Homo sapiens: one gene and its partners. The protein of the gene in region 2 purifies or fractionates together with the protein of the main gene of each other region. This does not show direct contact. Each region holds a gene or a part of one and is shown on either strand. Other genes may lie near its edges.

Region 1 (4,061 bases), on a different chromosome or scaffold from region 2:
TGAGCCACCACGCCCGGCCTAATGCCCAGATTTTGAAGGTGACACATGTGGATTGACCTACTGCGTGTGCCAGACACCATCCTGTATGCTTGACTCACTCTGTCCTGTGAGATAAAGGCAAGTGACTACTCCCCAAGGCCACCCAGCTAGTGAGTGGCAGAGCTGGGACTCAAATCCCCAAAGATCATGCTCTGTCTCCCCCAGTGTGGGATCCAAAAACCCTGCAGGGCAGAGGAAACCCTGGTCCTAATGCCTGGTCCAGCTCCCTAGCAAGGGCCTGGCAGTGCTGGTGGTTCAGATGTGATACCTGGCCCATGGGGCTTAACACTGAGCTGGAGGCTGCAGGTTTGTGGCTGAACAAGTTAATGAGCTTGTGACCTTTAGGAGGCATGAGGGTACCGTGAGCAATCAGGTCACCTTGTAGCCATGGTCCCTTCCTTACAGGTTTCTGCGCACAGTCCAAGGTCAGTGCAGAGCCCGTGGCCTGGGTGCCAACCCCTGTCCCTTTCTCCACCTAGCTGAGCATTGCCCCTGAGCATTGGTAGCCACACCCCGGCCCCCGCCAGCAACCCGCTCGTGGTTCCCAGGAAACCTTCCAGAGGCAGTGGAGGTCTGGAGACTGGTCTTTAGCTCGTAAAAGTGAACATCCTGAATCCCCAGATAGTGGCACTCAGGGCACAAGTCTTGGCGGGGAGGAAGGAAGCCAGCTGAGTGGGCCAGTACAATCCTGGGACGTCTGCCCCTACGACTGGCAAACCCAAAAGAGGTTTGCGCAGGGAGGGGCCTTGCTGCGGAGATGGAGGAGGGGATGGTTCTGCTCTGCAGAGGAGTGGAAAAGGAACAGAAAAAGCTATGCATCAAAATCCCAGCTTTCCCTGCTAGTGCTGGCAAAGACTTAGAAACCATCCAGGTGGTTGGAGATTCTCAACTATTGTCGATCACAGATGCTTTTGGAAAATCACTGAAGCCTCTGCCCTCTCTCTCAAAAACAACGCAAAGTTTTACAGACAGTTTCGTGAGACATCATGGAACTCCCCGGATTAAGCAGCCCAGTTGATCTACCCTCCTCTTTCAACTCAAAAAGAAATGAAAACCAGAGAGGGCAAGTGTTGGTCAAGGTCACCCTGCAGCTGCTGGGCACAGCCTCAGGGCAGCGCAATCTAGCTGACTCAGGGCTGCAAGGAGTTGGGGGAGGGGCAGACTTGGGAGGCTCCCAGCTTCCCTAAAGGAGAAAGGGGACATTAAAACATGAAAGGGCCCACCAGCCACCTCCGCCACAGGCAACAACTGACTGTAGTAATGGTTCCCTCTAGGAAGAAAGGATGCGAAAAGGTCCTGACCCACCCCCACGTGGAAGATTTAAGGTAGGAACGTTAAGCACTGAGCAGGTAGTGGGAAGGAGCCTGGTAGGGGTGAGAGGAATAGAGTTTCTTGCGGGGTGTAGGAGAGGGCATGGCAGCATTGGCGGGGAAGCCTTGCTACTTAGAAGGGCTAAGAGTCTCCAGCGCTTGCAGACCAGAATCCTGCACCACTTTTTTCCTGTAGAGGAAACTTGTTTTTTTCTTGACGGGGGAGGGATCTCAGAGTGGGGTCGCCTAAGCTTGGGGTAGAGAGCAGCAGGGGGCCCAGAGTTGAAGTACAGCCGTAAAGAACCTGGAAAGGGGGAACCGAAGGACAACCCAGAGTTGGGGCGTCCCACAAGAGACCCAGAGTAAAACTGCGATTTAACTAGGGGCATGCACTTTGCAGAGGGAAGGTGAGCAGCGCGCCACTCCACGCGCAGTCCGGCAGCGCCCCCTTGGGTCACGCAGCCCAAAAGTTCGCTGCGGGGTCAGCAGGGGCGCCCCTCCCCCCACCCGCGCGCCTGCGTACCTCGGAACCACTCCTCGGACTGCAGCGTGCTCTGCACCGCGTGGCCTTCAAGCTGCGCGCGAATCTCGCGCAGCGCCGACGTCACGTCGCACTTCAGGGCGTCGCGCGTCTCGGCCTGCATCTGCGCCTGCGCGGCGCCGGAGCCCTGGATCTGGCCGAGCAGCTCGCCCACCTCTTCCTGGTGGTGGCGCCGCAGGTAGCCGCACTCCTCCTGCAGCGCCTGCGCCTTCTTCTGCAGGTCCACGCGCGCCGCCTCGGCCTCCTGCGCGAAGCGCGCCAGCGCGCGGGCCGCCGCCTCGGCCTCCTCTCGCTGCCGGGCCTCGTCGTCTAGGCGCTGGCGCACGTGCGCGATGTCCTCGAGCAGGTGCTCCTGCTCCAGGCGTAGCTGACCGCGCGCCGCGCCCAGGCGCAGCACCGCGCCGCGCATCTCGCGGACCTCGCGCTCGTACAGCTCGCCCATAGCGGAGCGGCCCGCCTGCTGCTGCCGCAGCGCCGCAGCCTCGCCCTCCAGGCTGCGGTTGTGCGCCTCCAGCTGCCGCACCTTGTCGATGTACCCGGCGAAGCGGTCGTTCAGCGCCTGCAGCTGCTCCTTCTCACTGCGTGAGGTGGCCACCGCCACCATGCAGCCCTCCGGCCCGTTGCTCAGCGTGTCCAGCGAGTCGGTGCTTGAGGCGGCGCCTGCGCCACGGAAGCGGCTGGGCGAGGCGGACACGGAGCTCACGGACGTCCGTGTCCACGAGTGGAAGCCGCTGGAGGAGCCAGCGGCGGAGCGCGTCCCGCCTGCGCCACCCTTTCGGGCTAGCGCGTAGTGGAGGCTGCCGCCGCCATGCAGCGGCGCGAACGGGGCGCCCAGCAGCGCGTCCGCGCCGCCGAAGCTCATCATGGCCTGAGCAGGTGCGCGAGGCCGGGACGGGGCGGGAGGCACTGCGGCAGCACCAGGGCGCCGGCCCTTTTATAGCCGCCGCGGCCGGGTCCAACCCCTTGGCAGTGAGAGGGTGGGGAGGAGGGCCCCGCCCTCTCCGCCTCCTCCCCTGCGGCCCCCCGGCCGACCGGCTCCGCCGCAGTGAGAGGGGCGGGGCAGGGGACCGAGGAGGGAAGGGGAATCGACGCTGCGTCAGAGGAGACCCTCGAGGTCGGGGAAGCGGGCAGAGGACTCCCGGAGTGGGCCAGTGAGGACCCCCGGGTGCGCGTCGGAAGAGCCTGCGAGTGTGTTCGGAATAAGAAAGGGGACTTGAAACAGGGAGAGGACAAGGAGAAACCTGATGGGAATAGGGGCAGGATGCCCTCGGGATGGAGCAATGGAAGATTGCAGTCATTAGGATGAGGGGATCCCTGTATGAGACAGGACACGAGGCTTTCCAAATAGTTAAGAGAGGCTTTCAGGATAGGGGGTGCAGAGACTGTGCAGCCAGCCCCGGAACAGAGGAGGGAGCAAGGCAGTCCTGAATGGGAGCATGGACGCTCCATAGAACGGAGACAGGAGACCCCTGACCGGGGGAGGTACAGTGTTCTCCTAACATCTAGAGGACCCACTTGGAGAGCGCTCAGGAAACTCCGCGGCCAGCCCCGGAATAGATGAAGGGGGACCTGGAGTTGGGGAGAATAGCAAGGCTACCCTGAATGGGGGTATGGGAGACACTGCAGAGGATGGAGAGAGGGAACCCCGGATGGGTGGGGTTGGGGGGAGGCAAGGCGTTCTCTAAAAAGTCTGCAGTGGCCCCCGAGAGAGGAGATGGGAGACCCTGCTGCCAGCCCCAGTAAAGGGGACGGACCCTCAGCGAAGCGGGCAGAAGGTCCCCTGAACAGGCAGGAGAAAGCTGGGCTGAGTTTGAGGGGCAGAGAACCTACAGTGGGGGTACCGTAGGAGGGCTTGGGCATGAAGTTGAGAGAGCTGGCCCCTGTGTGGGGTGGGGGGAAATGATGGGTGTCACCCGAGCCAGCTTCTGCACACTGGGGTCAGCTAGGCAGTTTGCTGGTCGAATGACCTTGGACAAGCTGTGTCCTCCCACCCTTGTTTTTCCATCTGTACAACGAAGGGGTCTTGCCCCAGAGACAAGCTCCAACTCCTGACCCCCGACTGCCCCAGGAAGTTCCACTTTGAGGGGTCTCTGGCTGAACTGGGGATGGGGAACCCACATCTTGCCGTTCTGTCAACACTAGGAAGTCCTCTTTTCTCCCTCCCCCTCCCC
Region 2 (3,500 bases):
CTTTCCTGGGGTTTTCAGCCCAAAACTCACTTCACAGAGGGGAGGTACAGACAGGTGTACTCACATGTTGAAATTATAATGCCCAGGGTAATTGGTGTGTAGAACAAACTTCTTCACTTTGTGTGTATTCGCATCAAAGAGGATGTCCTGGGATAGAAAACAAGGGTACTCAAGGAGGGAATGTTACTGAGGCAGGGCAGAGGCCTTTCCAAAGGCATGTCCAACTTGGGACATCCAGTGCACTCCACAGCAAGAATGCCTGCAGGCATCACCTTTCTTCCAGACAACAGTCCAGGGGACAGGCCAAGCAGCTTTTAGACATTTTCTTTCTTCTTTTTTGAGATGGAGTCTCACTCTGTCATGGAGGCTGGAGTGCAGTGGCACTGTGTCAGCTCACTGTAACCTCTGTCTCCTGGGTTCAAGCAATTCTCCTGCCTCAGCCTCCCGAGTAGCTGGGATTACAGGCGCCCACCACCACGCCTGGCTGTTTTTTTTTTAATTTATTTTTATTTTTAGTAGAGACGGGGTTTCACCATGTTGGCCAGCCTGGTCTCAAACTCCTGACCTCAGGTGATCCGCCCACCTCGGCCTCCCAAAGTGCTGGCATTACAGGTGTGAGCCACCGTGCCTGGCCCCATACCTTATCTTTTCTGTCATGTGTGTTACCTCTCAACACACTGTACTATCCATTTTAGCTCTTTGTCCTGCTAAGTGGCTTTCTTCCCTCTGAATATAAGCTCCGTGAGGGCAGGGTTGTCCGTCTGTGTTCTTCACTGCTGTATCCCGAACTCCTAGAGTAGTGCCTGGCACACAGTAGGTACTCAATAAAGATTTACTGAATAAAGGTGCTTTACAAACTTTCAAGGCAGGTTCCTCTTTACAGATGAGGAAACCAAGGCCCCAGGAGGTGCAGTAAGTCACCTAGCGTGGTGCCCAGATGGTAAGCAGCAGAGCCAAGAGAATCCGAGGATGCAGACTCAGGACTTTGGGAGGCCAAGGCAGGAGGATTCCTTGAGTTGAGAATACAGGTGCACACCACCACGCCCGGCTAATTTTTGTAATTTTAGTGGAGATGGGGGTTTCACCATATTGGTCAGGTTGGTCTCGAACTCCTGACCTCAGGTGATCCACCCACCTTGGCCTCCCAAAGTGCTGGGATTACAGGCGTGAGCCACCATGCTGGCCAAGTCACCTGGTTCTTGAGGGGCTGAAGGCCACTTGACTATTCTGAATTCCACAATCCATCAGACCCTCCTGGCTTCCATTACACCCTCTGTGGGAGTCAGCAACCCCAGGAACTGAAGTTCCAGCCTGACCTCTCTCTAGGACTTGGACCTGGATTTGATGCCACCCAGTGAACACTTCCCTCCTATCCCCTACCCTTTCCAGCTTCATATCCATCCAGCTGCTTGGGCCCGTGACCTCAGGGTAACCTCTGACTCTACCCCTGTACCCACAGCCAACTAAGTCCTACTGAGGCCAGTCCATTCTCTCCATCTTCCCTGTCACCTATTGATGGCAGCAATGGCCCATCTGGAGTGGCCGCTGCAAGGATGCCGACTGGAGCAGAGGAAGTGTGGCCGGGACCTCTGTTTTCCCATAGAACTATGCAGAGCCTATGGGAACTGGGAACAGGTGAGAGCCCTGGCCTCTACTAAGTTGGCAGGGCAGGAGCCCATGCTCCTGGGTGTAGCTGCAGCCTCCCAGCTGCAGCTCCAGACCCTGGCATCCCTGCACTCTCAGGGGCCCAGAAGGCCCCTTGCCCCGGCAGGCTTGAAAGTGCCTGCTCCCACTACCTAGCCTCTCCCCACTCCCGGTGCCTGCTCTGGGGAGGGGCAAAGTTGTGGCTGAGCCCAGGCGCTGTCACGACCTGGTTGGGAGTGCACGCACTCAGGGCAGCACTGACACACTAGCCCCCTGCCGCCTCGGCATGAACAGCATGGGCACCATGGATGGCACGCTGATGGTGGTAGGAAGCAGAAGGGCTCCTGGGCAGAAAGGGCTTGGTCTGAGGTGAAACCCCACCTTCAAGCCTGGGATGGCCTGAGGCCTGGGGGCCGGGCTGCCAGCTCTGGGTAGTCTGTGGGTGGAGTGAGAATTTATGGTGCTTTTTCCGGGCCTGCTCATGGACCAATCAGCATGCACTTCCTCCCTTCTGAGCCCATAAAAACCCTGGATTCAGCCAGACTTGGACAGATGTCAATACTACCAACTGTGGGAAGAAGCTACCCACTTCAGGACTCCTTGACTCCTCAGGATGACCTGCCTACAGAAAGAAGCTACCCACTATGGGTCTTCTCTCTGCTGAGAGCTGGATACTCGTCAGGATGACCTGCCTGCAGAAAGAGCTACCCACCATGGGTCTCCTCTGAACTGTTCTGTTGCCCAATAAAGCTCCTCTCCTTTTTGCTCACCCTCCAGCTGTCTGCATACCTCATTCTTCCTGGCCGCAGGACAAGAACTCGGGACCCACCGAATGGTGGGACTGAAAGAGGTGTAACACAAATAAGGCTGAAATGCCCTGCCCCGCTTTCCACATTGTGGGTGACAAGAAGAGAAGAGCTGCAGCCCTTCAGGAAGCCCAGACCTAGGAGCTCCCCGAGCCAGAGCTGTGACACCCTGTTTGGGGCTCTGTGTGGTTCTTGGTGTCCCCAAGCTTCCGGGTGCCACCGCATTCTCCTTGTCCAGACATGGGTGCCCGCAATGGAAGCCGCTTGCGGTACACGTGATCTAGCCTCACCCTTACGTGGAGCTGGTGCCTATGCTGGCGCCTGGAGCTGCCTGCCCCACCACAGCAGTCAGCATGCCTGGCTGGGCACAGTGGCCGGATGCCACATTCACTCGCTCACACACCCCTTGCCACTCCATGCCTGGCTTGCCCTTGGCAGGCATGGGATCCAGGCTGGTAGCATGAGCTAAGCGCAGCCTGCCAGGCTGAGTGAGCTGAATGAGCCCAGCGGGAGCAAGCAAAAATTGGGGCAAAGGTGCCACCGGCCAAAGTAGTTTCCAGCTGGAAAAGCAACACCCTAAGTTTCTTGAGATACTATCATCACTGGCCCTTGAACCAGAGGTCCAGCTGCAACAGCACTGTTCCCTCCTGCCGCCATCCTACTCTCAGGAGTTCATGACCGGACATCAGCTCCCCTACTACTCTTGGCTCCTGTGTTTGGTCTTTCCCACTTAGGCAGACTCAGTCTCTCCTCACTCCCTCTGTGAAATCTACTGTTTGCTACCTCAGGACCTCAGACCGTAGAAGGCTCAAAGGTTACAAGACCCATGGTCCAGGCCAGCCCTGCCCTCTTGAGATGTTTCCTGCTGAAACACTGTTTATACAATAATTTCTCATGTATGCAACTCACCCACCAGCTGGACTGTCCGCACTGGCCAGCTACCAGCTATATCCAGCTCCCTGGGTCCATAGCACAGGGATACAGCAATGCCTCTGGGGTGGTCCTCTAAAAATATACAAGCACACCCCACTGTCTCCAATCCTTTTCAGT
Region 3 (3,500 bases), on a different chromosome or scaffold from region 2:
GTGCTGGGATTACAGCCATGTGCCACAGCACCAGGCCCCACAAGTCCAGTTTTGAGACCCAACATTTGAAAGATCAGTAGAATACTGAATAGCCAGATTGGCTGTCTGTCTGCTGCCTAGAGAAAGTCAGGATTAGAGACAGAGATTTGGGAATCATCAACATGGAGGTGACAAACTGACATCATGGGAGTGATGAGATGAACATGGAGCACGTGTAGGGCAAAAAGGGTAAAGGCAGAATCTCCAAGAACTATATTTAGAAGAGGTAAGGAAGGAACTGAAGAGCAGCAACAGAGGTCAGGGGAATGAGAAGAGACAATTGGATTTGACAATAAGGAAATCACTGGTGCCCATTAAGAAGTTTCAGTTAGGCCGGGCGCCATGGCTCACACCTGTAATCCCAGCACTTCAGAAGGCCAAGGCAGGCAGATCACCTGAGGTCGGGAGTTCGAGACCAGCCTGACCAACATGGAGAAACCCTATCTCTACTAAAAATACAAAATTAGCCGGGCATGGTGGCGCATGCCTGTAATCCCAGCTACTCGGGAGGCTGAGGCAGGAGAATATCTTGAACCCGGGAGACGGAGGTTGCAGTGAGCTGAGATCGTGCCACTGCACTCCAGCCTGGGCAACAAGAGCAAAACTCCATCTCTAAATAAATAAATAAATAAATAATAAATAAAAGAATTTTCAGTTAAATAGTGAGATGATAAGTTGCCAGAGCAAAATAATCAAACAAAGAGGAAACCTTTGAGAAGTTAGGCAATGTTGGGGAGACAAGGGTGGAAACTTATTTTCAGGCTGAGGATAAAAGCCGGCAAGGAAATACAAACAGAAGAAAGGGTGTGAGAGGTGGGGTGGGGAGGATGAAACAGATGATCATGAAAAGAGCTCAAAGAAAAGGGAAGTAACTAACATCAACATGTAGAAGAGGTTGATGTTATGGGTTGAACTGTGTCCCTCCCAAAAAAGCTATGTTTAAGTCCTAACCCGTACCTAAAAATGTGACCTTATTTGGAAATGGGTTTTTGCAACTATGATTAATTAGGTTAAGATTAGGTTAAGATGAGGTCATACTGGAGTAAGATGGGCTCCTAATGACTGGTGTCCTTCTCAGAAGCCAGCTCTATGATGATAGAGACACAGGGAGAACACCATCACAGAAAGAGGGAGAACTGGAATGAGGCATCTTCAAGTCAAGGAACACTGAGGATTGCCAGCAAGCCACCAGAAGCCAGGAAGAGGCAAAGAAGGATTTCCCTACAGGTTTCAGGGGTAGTATAGCCCTGTGGACACCTGATTTTGGAACTCTAGCTTCCAGAACTGTGAAACAATGAATTTTTATTGGTTTGAGACACCCAGTTTGTGCTACAGCATCCCTAGGAAGATGAATACAGTTCATTTCAGAATGCAGGAAGGGAACAGTTTTCAGAGAGAAAGGGAAGAAAAGAAGATAGGTGAAAATGTCATCTTTTTATTTTTATTTTTATTTTTTTTTAGACAGAGTCTTGCTCTGTTGCCCAGGCTCGAGTGTAGTGGCACGATCTTGGCTCACTGCAACCTCGGCCTCCCAGGTTCAAGCAATTCTCATGCCCCAGCCTCCCGAATAGCTGGAATTACAGGCATGCACCACCATGCCCAGCTAATTTTTGTGTTTTTAGTAGAGGTGAGGTTTCACCATGTTGGCCAGCTTGGTCTCGAACTCCTGGCCTCAAGTGATCCACCTGCCTTGGCCTCCCGAAGTGCTAGGATTACAGGCGTGAGCCACCGTAACCAGCCCTATCTTTCTATACTTATGTTCTGTTTTGAAGGATGATGGTTCATTTCTGGCTTGACTCTTCTGGTAAGGATATAACTGAGAATAAGTTCTAAACAGGAATAGGCTTCTGAAGACTGAACAGAAATTTAGACCCAACATTGTGGTCCTGAGCCCAAACTCCATCCAACCTGAAGAAACATTAAGAGGTAAGATAGGCCGGGTACGGTGGCTCACGCCTGTAATCCCAGCACTTTGGGAGGCCAAGGTGGGAGGATCACCTGAGGTCAGGAGTTAAAGACCAGTCTGGCTAACATGGTGAAACTGTCTCTACTAAAAATACAAAAATTAGGCGGGCATGATGGTGGATGCCTGTAATCCCAGCTACTCAGGAGGCTGAGGCCAGAGAATCACTTGAACCTGGGAGGCAGAGATTGCAGTGAGCCGAGATTGCACCATTGCACTCCAGCCTGGGTGACAAAAGAGAAACTCTGTCTCAAAAAATAAAAATAAAAATAAATAAAAAAATAAAAAAAGAGATAAGATAATATCAAGGGTGGCAGGTGGGGCTTCTCTGGAACATTGAGACTGAACCAGAAGGCAAAGGACAAATGACTACATGTACTCCAGCATCTGGTCTTTTACATTCAGAGAGTGGGACAGCCATGGCTACTGCTAGTTTATTTTCCTATGACAAATGCCATATATATACTAGATGAGTTCATTTTCTTTTACTTTAGGTAACGTAAGTACTGAAGAAATTTTTTAAAATTTAACCTTGAAAGATAATGTAGTGATAGATAACACTTCAAAAACTCAAGACATGCATGCCTTACCATGGGCCCTGCCTAGTAACAGCTCAGGTGCAAGGTAGTCTGGGGTTCCTAGAATTCGCCCATCATCAACGGGGGCCACCCCTCTTCTCACACTCTTCGGAGTTCGGTATGGAGTTCCCGACTTGATCTGATTTGGGGTCTGCTAATTCAAAAAGGGTTTAAGAGATAACAAATATCTTAATTCCTTTTACACCGAATAGAAAATGGTGAAACACACAAGCCAAATAACTAGCTCATAGGCTACTAGGCGTAAAGGATGTAGTCAAATTTTTGATAAGTTTTGAAAATGAATGCATAATTAGTTATAATTATGAAAAAGTCCTTTTATCTGGTGAAGTTCAAAAGCTTAGACAACACTGATTATTCCAATAAGATCTAGATAAGAAACAATAAAAAAAATCTGCAAGAAAAATGTTCAGTGAAAAAATCTGCAAGAAGACTGATAGCATGGACTAATACAAGCTTAAGAAGAGCCACTGAGGAAGGCTATGGCTAACAAATGATTAAGACAACACGTAAGACAGAACTACATATAACCTATTGTACTAAATAGCATTTAAAAATTTTTAGGATAATTTGTTATTTCACAACAAGTTTTTTTTTTTGAGATGGAGTTTCGCTCTTGTTGCCCAGGCTGGAGTGCAGTGGTGCGATCTCGGCTCACCACAACCTCCGCCTCCCAGGTTCAAGGAATTTTCCTGCCTCAGCCTCCCAAGTAGCTGGGATTACAGGCATACACCACCATGCCTGGCTAATTTTGTATTTTTAGTAGAGACGGGGTTTCTCCATGTTGGTCAGGCTGGTCTCGATCTCCCGACCTCAGGTGATCCTCCCACCTTGGCCTCCCAAAGATGGTGTGAGCCACCACGCCTGGCATTCACAACAACTTTGTAAGACCAGCAAGACAG
Region 4 (3,369 bases), on a different chromosome or scaffold from region 2:
TAGTTAACTTTTAAATGTCAAAGGTTTTCGTTTCAAAATATTTCTGTTTAAAACTATTTTAAAATTATTCTATATATACTCATTAAATAGTACAGAGTACAATTTAAACTGTTCTTTGTGGCTTGTTAAATCATTGTGAACATTCTTTAAGTATATGTGAACTTGTACTACATTCCAGGCATTGTGCTTGGTGCTAGTATACACACATTAATGAACAAAGCAAGATGTGGTTCCTATTCTTAAAATCTGTTATATCAGTGTAGTTATATAGTTATAATACTGTGCTGTAACAAATGTTTGCAGAGGCCAGAAGAATATTTGGGGTAACTAAGTGCTAAATAGCACTGGAGTTTGATTCTTTCCAATCCAGGTTTCCCTAAGAATTTTTTTGTCCTTGCTGATTTTTCATAGTGTTTTAGGAAATTCTTATTTTTGTGGTCTATAGTTGTATTGAGATTGTTTGAGGTCACTGAAGTGAGATTTCTGTCTGAGCATTCAATCTCAAATGCTACCTAAGAAGCAAATATTTTCTCAAGCCTAAAATTATTTGCAAGTTTAATTAGAGCAAATAAAGTATTTCATCTTTATCTTTTAATTAAATTTTCTAAGTAGGATGTAATACTGGATGATATGTATTATGTTTATAAACAAAGGAGTTATTTCTTTGTTTCTCCAGAGTGTTATGGAAAGCAGTGACAGATGTGCTTTATCATCTCCATCTTTAGCCTTTACACCACCAATCAAAACTCTAGGTACACCAACACAACCTGGAAGTACTCCTAGGATTTCTACCATGAGACCTCTTGCTACAGCATACAAAGCCTCTACTAGTGATTATCAGGTATTTTAAGGATTGGATAAAAAAAGATGTACTTTAATGGCTGAGTGCATAGCATGCTTAACTTTTTCATTGTATTGATTTGTATGCCATTAAATGTTTCCTGTGGAGGCTATTACCTTGATGAAACCTTTACGCTTTAAAAGTTTTCTGCTTTAAAGTTAACATCTTGGCCAATTGGAAAGTTATCATGAATTAAAAAAAAAAAATTATTTGCCATTCCTTTAAATTTTTTGAAAGTTGTTTTAGCTTTTTCTAAGTTATATTTGCATACATACGAAATGTATCCTGTGTGCATCTTTGACATGAGGGCGCATTAAAACTTTATTAAATTGATGACTAAATTGATGGTATCCAAAGTGCAGAACCTTAGGTTGGAGTAGCTTTGGTTATTTAAATGAAGACATTGACCAACCTCCAGACAGAAAAAAATTTCTCACTTCAAAAAAGCTTAAAGAAGTTAATTATGTTCTTTGAAGAATGGTAGAAGTATTATGATCTCATTCAGTATATTATTGTCTCCTACTGACTAGCCAAGTGTTCGAACTTAACCAGCTGCAGAAACAGGTCCTGAAACACACAGTACATGAAACACTTGTGCTTTAGTAGGGCAGATAGTGGTAGTTCAGTTTTTTGACTTCCTCTGAAATTTGGAGATTATTCTAGAACTGTTTTTTTCTTTAGGTTCTATTACTGTTATTTTAAATTTCCCATTCAGTGCAGCTTTTGTTATTCAATTTTTCTTTCTTTTGTTTTGAGACGGAATGTCTCTCTGTTACCTAGGCTGGAGTACAGTGGTGCTATCCCAGCTCACTGCAACCTCTGCCTCCTGGGTTCAGGTGATTCTCCTGCCTCAGCCTCCTGAGTAGATTACAGGCACGTGCCACCACGCCCAGCTAATTTTTTGTATTTTTAGTAGAGATGGGACCATGTTGGCCAGGGTGGTCTCAAACTTTTGACCTCAAGTAATCTGCCCACCTTGGCCTCCCAAAGTGCTGGGATTACAGACCTGAGCCACTGCGCCCAGCTATTCAATTTTCTAATTTAAGAAACAGATGTTATTTGCTTTGCCAAAGGAATAAAATTTTGGCATTCTTAAAAGCATAAGGATATTCTAAGTCCATATTTTAATTTTAAAAATATACAATTCAGGCCGGGCGCAGGGGCTCATGCCTGTAATCCCAGCACTTTGGCAGGCCGAGGCGGGCGGATCACGAGGTCAGGAGATCGAGACCATCCTGGCTAACACGGTGAAACCCCGTCTCTACTAAAAATACAAAAATTTACAATTTAGTGCTATAAATGCATTTTGGTGTTTCTCTTTTAAATGAGCAATTCTAGAATTGCCTATGACACTGAAGTAACAATAACCTAACCGTTTTTTTTGTGTGTGTTTTTTAATAGGTTATTTCTGACAGACAAACGCCAAAAAAAGATGAAAGTCTTGTATCCAAAGCAATGGAGTACATGTTTGGCTGGTAGTAGAACACCAAGAAGGAGGTTGCTACACTAAAACAGAGTTAGCAGAGTGCTGCTGGTTCCTTCGGTTAGTTATATAACTGTTCCTGCAGTATTGGATAGCTATCTCATACTTCTTTTAGAAAGAAGCCTTTTTCATTAAGGATACAACCTATTTGTAGCTCGCACTTTAAAAGATGCTTGAGATACATTTTAAAGAAAACTAAAAATCCCTGTAAATAGGATTTTGTGCTTTCTGTAACAGTGCATGCTTCAGCACAGAAAACTCAGCATTGATTATTGTAAATTAAATAACTGAAATTGTGGTGAGACGTCATAGTCTTCATGAGAACGTGGGGGTGAATTTCATGAAGGGGAACTATAGTTATTTCTACCGACACAAATATTATAATTAGCAATTTGAATTATGGTCTTTTAATTTAGATAGTATTTAATATTTTAATTATCCTTGTTTGTATATGTCCTGTCACAGAGTGTCCTCTTGGTGTATTCTAAAACGAGCATTCTTTTAAAAAACCTAAAGTTTCTTGATAATAAACATTGTCAATGATATGTGTATTAGTCTGTTTGCATTGCTATAAAGGAGTACCTGAGGCAGGATAATTTATTAAAAATAAGAGGTTTATTTGGCTCAGGGTTTAATTGGCTTGTAGCTGTACAAGAAGCATGATGCTTTACTTGTGGAGGAAAGTAAAGAAGAGTGAGCATATCACATGGTGAAAGAGAGGAAGAGAGCAGGAAGAAGGAAGTTCTAGACTCTTTTTAATAACCAGATCTCACATGAACTCATTACTGCAGGGAGGACACCAAGCCATTCATGAGGGATCTGCCCCCATGATCTAAACATCTCCCACTAGTCCCCACTTCCAACATCGGGGACCATATTTCAACATGAGATTTGAAGGGGACAGATATCCAAATGATATCAATATGTATTGAACATTTTTTGAAAGGGTGATTTATTATAAAAAGCTTTAAGTATTCATTGAAAGAGAAAATATGTATGAACCACTATATACCAGCTTTAATTACCATTAAATTTTGCCATACTT

Evidence for each region. Proteins that work in one complex are often made in the same cells at the same time.
Region 1: the proteins of PHAF1 (region 2) and NEFH purify together in Homo sapiens (affinity purification with mass spectrometry; 3 studies listed by BioGRID and IntAct, with this or other methods). This does not show direct contact.
Region 3: the proteins of PHAF1 (region 2) and MASTL purify together in Homo sapiens (affinity purification with mass spectrometry; 3 studies listed by BioGRID and IntAct, with this or other methods). This does not show direct contact.
Region 4: the proteins of PHAF1 (region 2) and NUP35 purify together in Homo sapiens (affinity purification with mass spectrometry; 3 studies listed by BioGRID and IntAct, with this or other methods). This does not show direct contact.

The regions. Positions count from the first base shown.
Region 1 is NC_000022.11:29,478,957-29,483,017, reverse strand, and holds the start of NEFH (neurofilament heavy polypeptide), read right to left. Parts: upstream 2,801-4,061; 5' UTR 2,756-2,800; coding exon 1,873-2,755; intron 1-1,872. UniProt on the Homo sapiens protein: Neurofilaments usually contain three intermediate filament proteins: NEFL, NEFM, and NEFH which are involved in the maintenance of neuronal caliber. NEFH has an important function in mature axons that is not subserved by the two smaller NF proteins.
Region 2 is NC_000016.10:67,140,941-67,144,440, reverse strand, and holds part of PHAF1 (phagosome assembly factor 1), read right to left. Parts: intron 148-3,500; coding exon 65-147; intron 1-64. UniProt on the Homo sapiens protein: Plays a regulatory role in autophagic activity. In complex with BCAS3, associates with the autophagosome formation site during both non-selective and selective autophagy.
Region 3 is NC_000010.11:27,172,352-27,175,851, reverse strand, and holds part of MASTL (serine/threonine-protein kinase greatwall), read right to left. Parts: intron 2,735-3,500; coding exon 2,593-2,734; intron 1-2,592. UniProt on the Homo sapiens protein: Serine/threonine kinase that plays a key role in M phase by acting as a regulator of mitosis entry and maintenance.
Region 4 is NC_000002.12:183,158,812-183,162,180, forward strand, and holds the end of NUP35 (nucleoporin NUP35), read left to right. Parts: intron 1-676; coding exon 677-841; intron 842-2,242; coding exon 2,243-2,320; 3' UTR 2,321-2,869; downstream 2,870-3,369. UniProt on the Homo sapiens protein: Functions as a component of the nuclear pore complex (NPC).